Linked DNA regions of Homo sapiens: region 1 is linked to region 2. The links come from fine-mapping of genetic effects on plasma protein levels. Region 2 holds a variant in brackets. A gene starts in the other region. All regions are shown on their reverse strands. Region 1 holds the start of TNFRSF4 (TNF receptor superfamily member 4). Region 2 overlaps ATXN2 (ataxin 2).

The links. A credible set is the group of variants that fine-mapping cannot tell apart. PIP is the posterior inclusion probability: the model's chance that the variant is causal. Protein levels are from antibody-based Olink assays in UK Biobank. Linkage for the fine-mapping came from a reference panel and not from the study's own genotypes, which makes the PIPs less certain.
Region 1: TNFRSF4 starts here. The variant in region 2 is the best candidate, but not a certain one, in a credible set for the plasma level of the TNFRSF4 protein (UK Biobank, PIP 0.54).

Annotation. Positions count from the first base shown.
Region 1 is chr1:1,206,368-1,214,499 of GRCh38, reverse strand. It overlaps TNFRSF4 (TNF receptor superfamily member 4), which reads left to right and starts at 347. Exons shown (of 7, transcript NM_003327.4): 1 at 347-517; 2 at 715-837; 3 at 1,407-1,508; 4 at 1,796-1,862; 5 at 2,362-2,558; 6 at 2,668-2,796; 7 at 2,875-3,160. The coding sequence starts at 373. The coding sequence ends at 2,945. It overlaps TNFRSF18 (TNF receptor superfamily member 18), which reads left to right and starts at 7,908. Exons shown (of 5, transcript NM_004195.3): 1 at 7,908-8,115. The coding sequence starts at 7,929. RefSeq lists silencers at 1,220-1,269, 5,473-5,582, 6,163-6,252 and an enhancer at 5,449-6,328.
Region 2 is chr12:111,491,675-111,499,808 of GRCh38, reverse strand. All of the region lies in intron 14 of ATXN2 (ataxin 2), which reads left to right. Among named protein-coding and RNA genes, the nearest start is that of SH2B3, 90 kb to the right of the region's middle. The variant G/A (reference allele first, on the strand shown) is at 4,813.

The DNA.
Region 1 (8,132 bases), not on the chromosome of region 2:
ACCATGCTTCAGCAGTGCCACAGCCCTGAAGGTCCAGACTGAGGAGTTGCCTCTCCTGACTCAGTGCTGCCTCAGTTTACCCACGTGCTCCATGGACCTTTTTGCTGAGGGTCGAGCCGCAGGCCAGGCCCTACTGTGCCCTGGGGTCTGAACACGGTGGTCTTGGGCAGAAGAGGTCAGAAGGCAGAATAAGCCAATGCTGGGGGTGCCCAGACCCCGCCTTTGTGCCCAGCCCACAGCCAGGGTCCCCGGCCTGCCACCTTCCTCCTCCCGCCTCCTCTGCCCTCCTCCCCTCTCCCCTCCCCTCCTCCACAGTCCTTATAGCCACACCCCGCAAGGAAAACCCAGACTCTGGCGACAGCAGAGACGAGGATGTGCGTGGGGGCTCGGCGGCTGGGCCGCGGGCCGTGTGCGGCTCTGCTCCTCCTGGGCCTGGGGCTGAGCACCGTGACGGGGCTCCACTGTGTCGGGGACACCTACCCCAGCAACGACCGGTGCTGCCACGAGTGCAGGCCAGGTGAGGCCTCAGGAGGGGTCGCCACGCACGGGCACTCCAGGGACTGGGGGCTGGGGCAGGGATGGGCCAGCCAGGAGGCTGGTCCTGGGGAGGGGGCGGGTGAGGGGCCGGCCAAGCCTGGCAGAGGAGCCGCCTGGGGGGGTCCACGGGCGCAAGCCTGGGGCCTGACCGCTGCCTGACGCCGGCCTCTGCTGCAGGCAACGGGATGGTGAGCCGCTGCAGCCGCTCCCAGAACACGGTGTGCCGTCCGTGCGGGCCGGGCTTCTACAACGACGTGGTCAGCTCCAAGCCGTGCAAGCCCTGCACGTGGTGTAACCTCAGTGAGCTCCCACCTGGCCCCACAGCCCCACCCAGCACAGGGGGCGGCAGCCTGGCACCCACATTCCCACGCAGCAGCATGGGGCTCCCACAGCCGCAGAAACGAACCTCAAACCACAGCGGGGTCTGCTCCGCCACAGGGGTCCTTCGAGGAGCTGAGGCGTCTCCCAGGGGCACCCCCTCTCCCTCCGGGGGCCCAGACTCGGCCCAGGCCACGTGGAGTCGGGGAGACCACGCTGGCCATGTGGCCTGGCCTTGCTGGCCTGAGCAGTGAGGCTGGGGGGTTGGGCCATGGAGACCCTGCCGCAGGCGGGGCTGGCGGCTGGAGGCGGTGGAGGGGTAGGGAAGGGTGGCTGGGGCTGCCACGGAACCAGCCCCAGGTTGTGGCCAGGAAGGGAGGGCCCAGGAGCCTCGGGGGCTGCAGGGGCTCCAAGTCTCAGGGGAGGCCGCAGACCCCTGCCCACGGCCCTCTGTGTGGTGGGGAGGCCAACCTGTCCTCCAGTGCCCACGCTTCCTGAGGACCCTGTCCACAGCCCCCACCTGACCACCCCCCCATCCGGCCCCTGCTCAGGAAGTGGGAGTGAGCGGAAGCAGCTGTGCACGGCCACACAGGACACAGTCTGCCGCTGCCGGGCGGGCACCCAGCCCCTGGACAGCTACAAGCCTGGAGTTGGTGAGCTCGGTGGCTGCGGCCGGCGGTTGGGGGTGTGCATAGCGGCTGTCTGTGACGCAGATGGGCCGTGGGCCGCAGGGACCTGGCCCCACCGGTGCCTCCTCTGGCATCCTCAAGACCGAGCTCCCGGGTCAGGGCCCACGGGTGGGATGTGGGCAGGGAGGGCTTCCAGAGGCCAAACCCACCACCCAGCCATGGGGGGCAAGTGCCTGCCCCACAGGCTCTGCCCCATGTCCCCAGCACCCGGGGCCTGTGGGCAGCCCCTGACCACCCTATCTTTGTTGCAGACTGTGCCCCCTGCCCTCCAGGGCACTTCTCCCCAGGCGACAACCAGGCCTGCAAGCCCTGGACCAAGTGAGGGGCCTGGCCAGGGGCTGGGAGGGGCTGGGGGGGGGTTGGGGTGGTTAGGAGGGCGGAGGAGCTGGGGAGCTGGGAGGGGCTGGGGGGGCAGGTGGGGTGGGGGCAGTTTTGGGGGAAGGGGAGGTGCTGGTGGCCCTGGGGGCCTGGCTATGTGGCTGGACCTGGTTGGGGAGCAGGAAGCTGCTGCCTGGGGGCAGCCTTTCCCTGTGGGTGGAGCTGGGTGTGTGGGACCCTCACCCTCCGCAGCTGGGAGGCCCTGGGGGCACAGGACAGGGAGGTGCTGGTGGGGGGTGTAGATGTGGGAGAAGGGTGTGTGGCCTTGGAGGCCCCTGTGGGGGGCACGTGGGGCTGGGCAGCGTCCTTGGCTGTCACTGGCCTGGTGTCTGTGGTAGATGCTGCCTGTGGCTGGCCAGCGTGGACCCTGTTATCCCCACCGCATCTCCCGGGTCCCAGGGGGTTTCTGGCCTGAGCAACACCTCCTGTTCCCCAACAGCTGCACCTTGGCTGGGAAGCACACCCTGCAGCCGGCCAGCAATAGCTCGGACGCAATCTGTGAGGACAGGGACCCCCCAGCCACGCAGCCCCAGGAGACCCAGGGCCCCCCGGCCAGGCCCATCACTGTCCAGCCCACTGAAGCCTGGCCCAGAACCTCACAGGGACCCTCCACCCGGCCCGTGGAGGTCCCCGGGGGTAAGGGCGCCTGGCCCAGCCCAGCGGGGCCCCCAACCCGAATAGGAGAAGGGGAGGGCGGCATGGGGGCCCCTCCTGTGGACCCCACCCAGCAGACCCCTTCCTGCAGGCCGTGCGGTTGCCGCCATCCTGGGCCTGGGCCTGGTGCTGGGGCTGCTGGGCCCCCTGGCCATCCTGCTGGCCCTGTACCTGCTCCGGAGGGACCAGAGGCTGCCCCCCGATGCCCACAAGCCCCCTGGTGAGTGCCTCATGGCCCTGCCGCACTGCTCCTGGCGGGTGAGGCCCACCCACCAATCTCTCCTTTTTTCCTCCCCAGGGGGAGGCAGTTTCCGGACCCCCATCCAAGAGGAGCAGGCCGACGCCCACTCCACCCTGGCCAAGATCTGACCTGGGCCCACCAAGGTGGACGCTGGGCCCCGCCAGGCTGGAGCCCGGAGGGTCTGCTGGGCGAGCAGGGCAGGTGCAGGCCGCCTGCCCCGCCACGCTCCTGGGCCAACTCTGCACCGTTCTAGGTGCCGATGGCTGCCTCCGGCTCTCTGCTTACGTATGCCATGCATACCTCCTGCCCCGCGGGACCACAATAAAAACCTTGGCAGACGGGAGTCTCCGACCGGCACTGTGGGCTGCACACCTGTGGCATGGAGGCTTGGGCCGTGCCCGCCTCTGACTGGAGAGGGGTCTTGGGAGGCTTGGGCCGTGCCCGCCTCTGGCTGGACAGGGGTCTTGGGAGGCTTGGGCCGTGCCCGCCTCTGGCTGGAGAGGGGTCTTGGGAGACTTGGGCCGTGCCAACCTGTGGCTGGAAAGGGGTCTTGGGAGACTTGGGCCGTGCCAACCTGTGGCTGGAGAGGGGTCTTGGGAGACTTGGGCTGTGCCAACCTGTGGCTGGAGAGGGGTCTTGGGCCAGGGTGGAGGTGAGGGTAGCGGGGTCAAGTGGGACCCTGGAGGTTGGTCCCTGGGTGCGAGTTCCAGATTGAGTGGGGAGCGGGGGGAGAGACTGGGAAAGCTCAGGCCCAAGGCTGCCTGGGGTGGAGGTTCCTGGCCAGGCGCTGACAAGGGCAGCTGGCCCCTGAGCCCCGGGTTGCCCAAGGAGCTTGGGAGTGGCTGACCCCCGGGGCTCTGTGTCCTTGGAGGAGGAGTGTAGAGACCTGCCCCTCTTCCCCTCCACACCTACGCCCACCCCTTGCTGCACCTGGAAGGGGGTCCCAGGGCCCCTGAGCACCCCGAGGAGTCCCTGCAAAGGGCCCACACGGCCCCTATGTCCCTGCCATAGGTGTCCAGGGGGACAGTCACCTTGGAAACCACAGTTTCTGCTTGAGCCAACTTTCTGTCCACCCTGGGCCCCGGCCGTCCCACTCCTGCGCACTTAAGAGTCCTGGGATCTGAATGAGAATGACCACAGCGACTTCATGTAACGTGGCCCCACAGTGGAGAAACCCAGGCATCCGCCAGCAGCGTGGATGCGCGAGTGCTGGCGTGTTCAGATGAGCTCCCAGCTCCTCGGCCCACACCACAGGTGTCCACAGACGCTCCCAAGGCCCTGGGGCCGTCCCCGGCCGTGCGGGAATCTTCTCAAGCTGGTGTCTGGGAGTGGGGTATCCTTCGAGCAGCACAGAGCCTGCTCCCGAGCGCCAGTCACGCCCGAGGCCACAGCTCGGGAACAAGGCGGGAGCAGCCCTGCAGGCTTCCCGCAGGGAAGACACCCCGGGCGTCTAAGCGACATCTGTGTCCCTCGGGAGGCGGAGGTGCCTGTTCGCCTCCATGGTGTCAGGGGCTGAAGAGAAACACTCCCGAGGGCTAAGACGTCTCACTGCACTTGTTTTTTCTTTCTTTTTTTTTTTTTGCCGGAGTCTTGCTGTGTCACCCAGGCTGGAGTGCAGTGGTGTGATCTCAGCTCACCAACCTCTGCCTCCCGGGTTCACGCCATTCTCCTGCCTCAGCCTCCCAAGTAGCTGGGACTACAGGCGCCCAGCACCACACCCGGCTAATTTTTGTATTTTATTAGAGACAGGGTTTCACCATGTTGGCTAAGCTGGTCTTGAACTCCTGACCTCAGGTGATCCACCTGCCTCGGTGCCCTGGAGTACTGCGATTCCAGGTGTGAGCCACCACGCCTGGCCCTCACTGCACTCATGAGCAAGAAACACACAGCCGAGGCCGGTCACGGTGGCTCACGCCTAGAATCCTAGCACTTTGGGAGGCTGAGGCCAGACGATCGTCTGAGCTCAGGAGTTTGAGACCCGCCTGGGTAACATGGCAAGACCCTTTTCTATGAAAAATAGAAAAAATCAGCCGGGTGTGGTGGTGCATGCCTGTGGTCCCGGCTACTTGGGAGGCCGAGGTGGGAGGATCACTTGAGCCCAAGAGATGGAGGCTGCAGTGAGACGTGACTGGAAAAAAAAAAAGAAATTTAAAAAAATTACTTAAGAAGAAACACATGAAGCCTCATGGAAGGTTTTGCTGAGGGCCTGGCACAGCCTGGACACTCCGGCTACCGTGGCTGGTGTGGCCCAGCCCCGCAGCTGCACCCGCTGCCCCACACAGCGTCCCTGGGCCAGCCTTCCCTCTCCCTGCGTCCTCCAACAGCGCACGCTGCCCACGGCTGTCCAGGCCTCCTGTGCCTGGCGGATGGCTCCCCCCTGCCGGTGTCGTGGAAGTGGGGAACCGGCCCCGGGGGTGCACAGTGGGAGCGCCACGCGCCACTCACAACAGCCCAAGGTGCCGGGACCACAGGTGGCTGTAAGGAAGACGCCCATCTCTGGCCTCGGGCTGCCCTGGACCCCTCCTGCCTCTGCAGCTGGTTTTCTCCCCTGGGTCTCTCTCTCCTCAAACCTCTGTCTTCCACCCACTCTCTGCTAACCACAAGCCTCCCCCCCCGCAGCATAGGGAAGTCAGAGGCCGTCCTGTCCCCCATCCAGCACCTTCACCGAGTTCCCCGGGTTCCTGCACACGGTTCAGCCTGCAGGCCCTGCACAGGGTTGGGGCCGCGCCTCTGAGAGCCCCCCGCCCCCCGCCCCGTGGGGCAGGCGAGGCCAGACCTCCAGGCAGGATGGCGGGTGGGTGGGGGAAGGGGTCAGGTGGCCGGGACTGGAGCGGCCAGATCCTGTGGGGCCCGCAGGTCGACGGCTATGGGAAAGGGGCCTCCTCCCCAAACCTGGCGCCCATACCCATCGCTTCCTGTCTCCTCCCCTCTGGGCACAGCACCCCCCAGGCCCCGTGGGACTTATTCCCCAGCAGGACCCCTTGCCGCACCCCCAGATGGACACGGGGCCACCTCCTCTTGGTCTCCATGCTCACCCTCCCCGCCCCCTCGCCTGACGCCATCTCTGCTGGCAACTCCTGTGCCATCTGTGCCGAAGGCCCTGCCTGAACTCTGGCTCAGTGCCCATCTGCACCCTCCCCGTGGGGCCTCACAGCTGCCCTTCTGGACGTACGCAAGGGCTGTCCCTCGCCCGGCCCGTGGGCTGCTCTGCTGTGTGAATGCCCCGTCATTTGTGTCACCGGTGAGCTGCTCAATAAGATGAACAAGTCACCTCCAGCCTCGCAGCCCAAGGATAGGAGTCACGGGGAGCCGGGGAGGGGCCTTCTGCGGCGAGAGGGATGGGAGGGTGGACGTCACACCCCTGCAGCCCCTCCGGGGACCACCCTGTGTGGCAAGCTGCTCTCCGGCTGTTCAAAGTGTCAGCTGCGCCACGGGGCGGGGGGGAGGGGCTCCTCTGCCCGCTGGCCGCCTCCCACTTGGCCCCATAAACTGCTCGCTCCTCTAACTCTGTCCCTGCCTCTAGATGGATGACTCACACCGTGTGGTCTGATGAGCATTCTTTATTTTTTGTGATGGAGTCTCGCTCTGTCACCCAGGCTGGAGTGCAATGGTGCCATCTTGGTTCGCCGCAACCTCTGCCTCCCAGGTTCAAGCAATTCTCCTGCCTCAGCCTCCCGAGTAGCTGGGATTACAGGCGTGCGCCACCACGCCTGGCTAATTTTTTTTGTATTTTTAGTAGAGACGGGCTTTCTCCATGTGGGTCAGGCTGGTCTCGAACCCCTGACCTCAGGTGATCCGAGGCCCACCTCGGCCTCCCAAAATGCTGGGATTACGGGCGTGAGCCACTGATGGCGCCTCTTTCTATCCAGGGGCCCAGACCCCCTCCCAGCCTCGGGGCTGAAGATCTCCAGGCCTCTCAAAGGCCCCCAGGCCCAGCTGGCCCCACCCCTTTCCTTCCGAGCGTCGGGGCGGCCTGGAGCTGCAGAGACCCCTTCCTTCTCTGCAGTGTCTGAGGGCTGCCTCTCCAAGGCAGGCTCCTACATCTTGGATTTGAGAACTCCGGGGTGTCACAAACAGCTAATTCCTGTCATTTACCTTGGAAAAGGAGGAACCGCCTTACGGGGTGAGGCGGTGGCTGCAGGTCTCAAAAGGGTGTTGAACCACATCCACGCTCACGTTCCCGAGAGCCCCCACCCCCAGCATTCATGGGGGTCTCCACCTGTGCTGGACGGCGCAGAAGCAGGGCTGGGCAATCCAGGGAGGCTTCCTGGTGGAGGCAGGGTCCCAGAACCCCTCGGTGCCCACAGGGGAAACTGAGGCTCAGAAAGACATAGGACAGTCTCCCAAGAGCTCTGCGAGGGGCTCCTCCTCAACTCCCTCCGGGACCTGGATCTGTCTGGTGTGACGGATGAAGGTGGCTCTGAGAGACCGGGCCCTGGGTGCCCGCGGGGGCGGCTGACACTGTCCCGAGGAGGCGCCAGCACCCTCTCGTCTCCCCACCAGCTCCTCCTGGTGCCCCTCCCAAGCCCCGGGGAACTTCCCAGGTTGGCCTGAGGGGGGTCCTGGAGAGCTGCAAGCAAGGGGGAGGGGAGCCCACAGGCCTGCAGCCCATGGTGAGTTTCACACCTGAAGCCAGCCAGGTGGGGTGTGCTGAGCCGAGGGGTCCCTGTCCCCATTCTGTGGGGTTCCCCAGCACGGGGCTCCATGGTTGAGGCTCTCTGGGGGTGGCCAGAATTTGTGGAGACCTCTCGGGGACTCGCAGATACCACCCGGAGGCAGTGGGATGGAGGAGTGATTGGCTGACCCCCGCCCTCCAAGGGGCCCCCATGGGACAAGGTGCTATAAACGCCGCCCCCTGCACTGGGGACACCAATGTGGCCGCAGACTTTGCATAGAAAACCTTTCTGATCCCCGCCAGCCTGGTTTCCCCGCCCCTGCCGGCGACCTGCGGGGGACCGGGCTGTGTCCGCAGTGTCTACACCCCCTCCTCACACGCACTTCACCTGGGTCGGGATTCTCAGGTCATGAACGGTCCCAGCCACCTCCGGGCAGGGCGGGTGAGGACGGGGACGGGGCGTGTCCAACTGGCTGTGGGCTCTTGAAACCCGAGCATGGCACAGCACGGGGCGATGGGCGCGTTTCGGGCCCTGTGCGGCCTGGCGCTGCTGTGCGCGCTCAGCCTGGGTCAGCGCCCCACCGGGGGTCCCGGGTGCGGCCCTGGGCGCCTCCTGCTTGGGACGGGAACGGACGCGCGCTGCTGCCGGGTTCACACGACGCGCTGCTGCCGCGATTACCCGGGTAAGTAAACCGCGTTT
Region 2 (8,134 bases):
GGCCCAGGCTGGTCTCGAACTCCTGGGCTCAAGCAATCCTCCCACCTTGGCTTCCCAAAATGCTGAAATTATAGTTGTGAGCCACTGCACCTGGCCTTGTATGTCTTCCTTTTTTTTTTGTTTTGTTTTGTTTTTGAGACAGAGTCTCACTTTGTTGCCCAGGCTGGAGCGTAGTGGTGTGATCTTGGCTCACTGCGCCCTACACCTCCCGGATTCAAGCAATTCTCCTGCCTCCTGCCACCATGTCTGCCTAATTTTTGTATTTTTAGTAGAGACGGGATTTCTCCTTGTTGCCCAGGCTGGTCTTGAACTCCTAACCTCAGGTGATTTACCTGCCTCAGCCTCCCAAAGTGCTAGGATTACAGGCGTGAGCTGCTGCGCCCAGCCTGTATGTCGTCTTTTGAGAAATGTCTATTCAGATCTTTTGCCCATTTTTAATTGAGTTACTAAAATTTTCCCTATGGAGTTGCTTGAGTGCCTTTTATATTCTGGTTATTGATCCCTTGTCAGATGAGTAGTTTGCAAATATTTTCTCCCATTCTGTGGGCTGTCTCTTCACTTTGTTGATGGTTTCCTTTGCTGTGCAGAAGCTTTTTAACTTGATGTGATCCCATTTGTCCATCTTTGCTTTGGTTGCCTGTACTTTTGGGGTATTACTCAAGAAATCTTTGCCCAGAGTAATGTCCCTGGGAGTTTAATGTTTTCTTTTAGTAGTTTCATAGTTTGAGGTCTTAGATTTAAATCTTTAGTCCATTTTGATTTGATTTTTTTTTAATATGGTGGGACACAGGGGTCTGGTTTCATTCTTCTGCATATGGATATCCAGTTTTCCCAGCACCATTTATTGAAGAGACTGTCCTTTCCCCAGTGTATGTTCATGGCTTCTTTGTGGAAAATGAGTTCACTTAGACGTATGGATTCATTTCTGAGTTCTCTGTTCTGTTTCATTGATCTATATCTTTTTTTATGCCAGTACCATGCCATTTTGGTTACAATAATTTGAAGTCAGATAATGATTCCTCCCGTTTTGTTCATTTTGCTCAGTATGGCTTTTGCTCTTTTGGGCCTTTTGTGGTTCCCTACAAATTTTAGAATTATTTTTGTCTACTTCTGTGAGGAATGTCATTGGTATTTTGATAGGGATTGCACTGAATCTGTAGATTGCTTTGAGTATTATCAACATTTTAGCAATATTAATTCTTCTAATCCATAAACATGGAATCTCTTTTCATGTTTTTTCTGTGTCATCAATTTCAGTGTTTTAAAGTTGTCATTATAGAAATCTTTTACTCATTTGGTTAAGTTTATTCCTAAGTATTTTATTATATTTGTAGCTATTGTAAATGGGATTGCGTTTAAAAAATTTTTCAGATTGTTTGCTGTTAAATATAAAAATGCTCCTGATTTTTGTGTGTTGATTTTTGTATCCTGCAATTTTACTGAATTTGTTTGTCAGTTCTAATAGGTTTTTCTTTTTTGGAGTCTAGGTTTTTCCAAATGTAAGATCATATTATCTGCAAACAAGGATAATTTGACTTCTTCCATTCCAGTGTGGATGCTTTTTATTTCTTTCTGTTGTCTGATTGCTCCAATTAGGACTTCCGAGTATTATGTTGAATAACAATGGTGAAAGTGGGCATCCTTGTCTTGTTCCAGATCTTAGAGGAAAGCCTTTCAGTTTTTCCCTTTTCAGTATGGTACTAGTTATGGGTCTGTCATATATGGCTTCTGTTTTGTTGAGGTATATTCCTTCTATACCCAGTTCTTTGGGGTTTTTTTGTTTGTTTGTTTTTGAGATGGAGTCTCACTCTGTCACCCAGGCTGGAGTGCAGTGGCGCAATGTTGGCTCACTGCAAGCTCCACCTCCTGGGTTCATGCCGTTCTCCTGCCTCAGCCTCCCGAGTAGCTGGGACTACAGGTGTCCGCTAACACGCCCGGCTAATTTTTTGTATTTTTAGTAGAGACGGGGTTTCACCGTGTTAGCCAGGATGGTCTCGAACTCCTGACCTCATGATCTGCCCGTCTCAGCCTCCCAAAGTGCTGGGATTACAGGCGTGAGCCACCACGCCCGGCCAAGGGTTTTAATCATAAGGGGATGTGGCATTTTATGTGATATAAATTATATATTTATATCATGTGATATATATTTATATCATACACAGTATAAATAATATATATATATATTTTTTAGTCTTTGTCTTTTATTCTGTTAAGATGTACCATGTTTATTGATTTGCGTATGTCGAACCATCCTTGCATCCCTGGGATGAATCCCACTTAGTCATGATGAATGATCTTTTTAATGTGTTACTGAATTCGGTTTGCTAGTATTATATTGAGGATTTTTGCATAATGTTCTTCAGAGACACTGGCTTCTAGTTTTCCCTTTTTGATGTGTCCTTTGGTTTTGTATAGGGTAATAGTGGCCTTGTAGAATGAGTTTAGAAGTATTCCCTCTTCCTGTATTGTGTTGGAATAGTTTGAGTAGGATTGGTATTAGTTCTTCTTTAAAGGTTTAGTAGAATTCAGCAGTGAAGCCATCAGGTCCATGGCTTTTCTTTGCTGGGAGACTATTTCTTATAGCTTTGATCTCGTTACTTGTTATTGGTCTCGTTACTTGTTATTGTATTTGGGTTTTGGATTTCTTTGTGGTTCAGTCTTGGTAGGTTGTATGTGTCTAGGAATTTATCCATTTCTTCAAGGTTTTCCAATGTATCAGCATATAGATGCTCATAGTAGTCTCTAATGATCCTTTGAATTTCGGTGGTAACAATTATAATGTCTCCTTTTTCATCTCTCATTTTATTATTTGGGTTTTCTCTTTTTTTTCTGAGTCTGGCTAAAGGTTTGTCAGTTTTGTTTATCTCTTCAAAACAATTTACTGTTTTATTGATCTTTTGTATTTTCTTCATTTCAATTTTATTTATTTCTGCTTTGATTTTTTTTATTTCTTCTACTGATTTTAGGTTTTGTCCTTGCTTTTCTAGTTCTTTAGGATGTATTGGCAGATGAAGTTTTTCCACTTTTTTGATGTAGGCACTTACTGCTGTAAACATTCCTCTTATTGTTGCTTTTACTGTATCCTATAGGTTTTGATAAGCTGTGTTTCCATTTTCATTTGTTTCAAGGAATTTTCCAGTTTTCTTCTTAATTTCTTCATGGACCCACTGGTCATTCAGGAGCATATTGCTTAATTTTCATGTATTTGTATACTTTCCAAAGTTCCTCTTGTTATCTAGTGTTATTTTATTTTATTTTTATTTTTGTTTTTTTGAGATGGAGTCTCGCTCTGTCACCCATGCTGGAGTGTAGTGGCGCGATCTCGGCTTACTGCAACCTCTGCCTCCCCAGTTCAAGTGATTCTTCTGCCTCAGCCTCCTGAGTAGCTGGGATTACAGGCATGTACCACCACTCCTGGCTAATTTTTTTTTGTATTTTTAGTAGAGAGGGGGTTTCACCATGTTGGTCAAGCTGATCTCGAACTCCTGACCTCAGATGATCCACCCACCTTGGCCTCCTAAAGTGCTGGAATTACAGGCATGAGCCACCGTGCCCGGCCTCTAGTGTTATCTTATTGTGATCAGAGAAGATAGTTGATATGATTTTAACTTTTTTGAATTTTTATTTATTTATTTGTTTGTTTGTTTGTTTGTTTGTAACAGAGTCTCACTCTGTTACCCAGGCTGGAGTACATGTCATGATCTTGGCTCACCTGCAACCTCCGCCTTCCTGGCTCAAGCAATCCTCCCACCTTAGCCTTCCAAGTAGCTGGGACTACAGGCACATGCCGTCACATATGGCTGATATTTTTGGATTTTTTTTTTTTTTGTAGAGATGGGGCTTTGCGATGTGTCCCAGGGTTGTTTCGAACTCCTGAGCTCAAGCAATCCACCTATTTCGGCCTCCCAAGGTGCTGGGATTACAGACATGAGCCACTGTGCCACGTCAAATCTTTAGACTTGTTTTGTGGCTTAACATAGGGTCTATCTTTGAGAGCAATCCATATGTTGAGGAGAAGAATGTGTATTCTATAGCTGTTGGACACAATGTTCTGTAAATATGTATTGGGCCTATTTGGTCTATAGAGCAAATTAGGTCTAATGTTTCTTTGTTGATTTTCTGTCTGAATGATCTGTCCATTGCTGAGAGTGGGGTGTTGAAGTTTCCGACTGTTACTGAGGTCTGTTTCTCTTTTTTGCTCTAATAATGTTTGCTTTATATATCTGGATGCTCCAGTATTGGTTGCATATGTATTTATACTTGTTATAACCTCTTGCCGAATTGATCCCTTTATCATTATACAATAATCTTCTTTGTCTGTTTTTATAGACTTTGTCTCAAAATCTATTTTATCTAAGCATAGCTACTCCTGTTCTTTTCTGGTTTCCATTTGCATGGAATATTGTTTTCCAGCTCTTCAATTTTAGTCTATGTGTGATTTTATAGGTAAAGTGTGTTTCTTGTAGGCAATGGATCTTTGGTTTTTTTTTTTTTTTTTTTGAGACAGAGTTTTGCTATTGTTGCCCAGGCTGGAGGGCAATGGCGCTATCTCAGCTCACTGCAACCTCCGCCTCCTGAGTTCAAGCGATTCTCCTGCCTCAGCCTCCCAAGTAGCTGGGATTACAGGCGCCTGCCACCAAGCCCAGCTAAATTTTTTGTATTTTCAGTAGAGATGGGGTTTCAGTATGTTCGTCAGGCTGTTCTTGAACTCCTAACCTCAGGTGATTTGCCTGCCTTGGCCTCCCAAAGTCCTGGGATTACAGGCGTGAGCCACCGCACCCAGCCTTTTTTTTAAATCCATTTAGCCACTCT[G/A]TATCTTTTGATTGGAGAGTTTAGTCGATTTACATTCAGTGTTGTTACTGATTAGTGAGGACTTAACTACTACCATTTTGTTACTTATTATCTGGTTGTTTTGTAGTCCTACTCCCTCCCTTCCCCCTTCTTTTTTACTTCCTCTTCGCTCCTTTTTTCCCTCCCTCCCTTCCTTGTTTTGAAAGTGATTTTCTCTGGTGGTATGTTTTAATTTCCTGCTTTATATTTTTTGTGTATCTGTTGTAGGTGTTTTTGATTTAAGATCACCATGACAGCTGGGTGCAGTGGTTCACACCTGTAATCCCAGCACTTTGGGAGGCCGAGGTGGGTGGATCAAGAGGTCAGGAGATTGAGACCAGCCTGGCTAACATGGTGAAACCCCATCTCTACTAAAAATACAAAACTTAGCCAGGCGTGGAGGCACGTGCCTGTAATCTCAGATACTCAGGAGGCTGAGGCAGGAGAATTGCTTGAACCCAGGAGGCAGAGGTTGCAGTGAGTCAATATTGTGCCACTGCACCCCAGCCTGGGCGACAGAGTGAGACTCCGTCTCAAAAAAAAAAAAAAAAAAGAGATCACATAAGGGTTGCAAATAACATTTTATAACCCATTATTTTAAACCAATGACAACTTGAAACTTTGATTGCAAAAACAAGCAAGCAAAGAGAAAACTAATAAAAACTCTACACTTCATCTGCCCGCTTTTTAACTTTTGTTGTTTTTATTTATATCTTTATTATACTATGTCTTAAAAAACTGTAGTTATAAGCCAGGCGCAGTGGTTCACGTGTGTAATCCCAGCACTTTGGGAGGCTGAGGTGGGCGGATCACCTAAGGTCAGGAGTTCGAGACCAGCCTAGCCAATATGGCAAAACCCCCTCTCTACTAAAAATAGAAAAATTAGCCGGACATGGTGGCGGGTGCCTGTAATCCCAGCTACTCGGAGGCTGAGGCAGGAGAATCACTTGAACCCAGGAGGCCCAGGTTGCAGTGAGCCGAGAGTGCGCCACTGCACTCCAGTCTGGGCAACAGAGTAAGACTGTCTCAAAAAACAATACAAAACAAAACAAAACCCTGGCCTAGTGGCTCACGCCTAATCCCAGCACTTTGGAAGGCAAAGGTGGGGCGAATCACAAGGTTAGGAGTTCGAGACCAGCCTGACCAACGTGGTGAAACTCTGTCTCTACTAAAAATACAAAAATTAGCCAGGCGTGGTGGCACGCACCTGTAATCCTAGCTACTCAGGAGGCTGAGGCAGGAGAATCGCTTGAACCTGGGAGGCGGAGGTTGCAGTTAGCCGAGATCGCGCCACTGCCGTCCAGCCTGGGCAGCAGAGCAAGACTCTGTCTCACAAAAAAAAAAAAAATTGTAGTTCTTATTTTTGAAAGGTTCATTTTTTATTCTTCCTGCTCAAAATATGAGTAGTAGTTTATACACCACAATTACAGTGTTACAATATTCTGTATTTTTCTGTGTACTTGTTACCAGTGAGTTTTTGCACCTTCAGGTGATTTATTATTGTTTGTTAACATCCTTTTCTTGCAGATTGAAGAACTTTTTTTTTTTTTTTTTTTTTTTGAGACAGAGTCATGCTCTGTTACCAGCCTGGAGTGCAGTGGTGCCATCTTGGCTCACTACAACCTCCAACTCCCAGGTTCAAGCGATTCTTCTGCCTCAGCCTCCCAAGTAGCTGGGATTACAAGCATGTGCCACCACGCCCAGCTACTTTTTGTATTTTTAGTAAAGACGGGGTTTTGCCATATTTGCCAGGCTGGTCTTGAGCTCCTGACCTCAGGGTGATCCGCCCGCCTTGGCATCCTAAAGTGCTAGGATTATAAGCGTGAGTCATCGTGCCCAACTTGGTTGTTTATTTTCAAATAGCCTGAATTCAAGCTCACTAATGTTTTCTGCTGCTTGATACATTTCTGCTATTGAGAGACTGATGCATTTTTCAGTTTGTCAATTGAATTTTTCCACTTTGGGATTTCTGCTTGATTCTTTTTACTAATAATTATTGCAGTCTCTTTTTTAAATTTATAGGATTCTGAATTTGTTCTCTGTATTATCTTGGATTTCGTTGAACTTTCTCAAAGCATTCAGCTTGAATTCTGTCTGAAAGTTCACATATCTCTTATCACTTGGGAATTGGTCACTGGTGTCCTTTATTTTTAGTTCATTTGGTGAGGTCATGTTTTCTCAGATGGCCTTGATGCTTGTGGATGTTCATCAGTGTCTGGGCATTGAAGAGTTGGGTATTCTGTTCTTTGTAGTCTGGTTTTGTTTGTACGCATTCTTTTTTTTTTTTTTCTGTTTTTGAGACAGAGTCTCGCTCTGTCGCCCAGGCTGGAGTGCAGTGGCACAGTCTTTGCTCACCGCAACCTCCGTCTCCCGGATTCAAGCAATTCTCCTGCCTCAGCCTCCTGAGTAGCTGGGATTACAGGTGCGTGCCACCACGCCTGGCTAATTTTTGTATTTTTAGTAAATATGGTGTTTCACCATGTTGGTCAGGCTGGTCTCGAACTCCTAACCTCGTGATCTGTCCGCCTTGGCCTCTCAGAGTGTTGGGATTACAGGCGTTAGCCACTGCATCCGGCTCCCATTCTTCTTGAGAAGGTTTTTCAAGTATTCAAAGGGAATTAAGTGTTGTCATCTAAGTCTTCGCTCACTGCAGCCATACATGCATTAGAGGGCACCCCAAGACTAGTAATGTTGTGACTCTGTAGAGGTATCACCTTGGTAGTCTTGGGGAAGATCTGGGAGAATTCCCTGTATTACCAGGCAGTCTCTTGTCCTCTTACATTTCTCCAAACAAATGGAGTCTCTCTTTGTGCTGAGCTGCTTGGAGTTTGGGGAAGGGTGACACAAGCACTGCCATGGCCACCGTCACTGGAACTGTACTTGGTCTCACCCAAGGCCTGTGGCAGCTATTTTCTGGCCACCACTGATGTTAATTTAAGGCCCAAGGGTGCTTTAGTCAGTAGGTGAAGAATCCTGCAAGAACTGGGTCTTTACTTTCAGTGCAGCAGGTTCCCTTCTGGCCCAGGGTGTGTCTAGAAATGCTGCCCAGGAGCCAGGGCCTGGGATCGGGAGCTTTAGGAATCTGCTTTATTGTACTGGGGCTGAGCTGGCACCCACTTGCAAGATAAAGTCCTTTTTACTCTTCTCTCACCTCAAGCAGGTGGGTCTCCCCATGGACACCACAGCTGTGAATGTGCGGGGTCATATCTGAAGCTGGCACAATACGACATGGCACCTTGTTTTTTATTCAAGGCACAAGGGCTCTTTAGTCAGCTGGTGGTGAATCCTACTAGGACTAGGTATT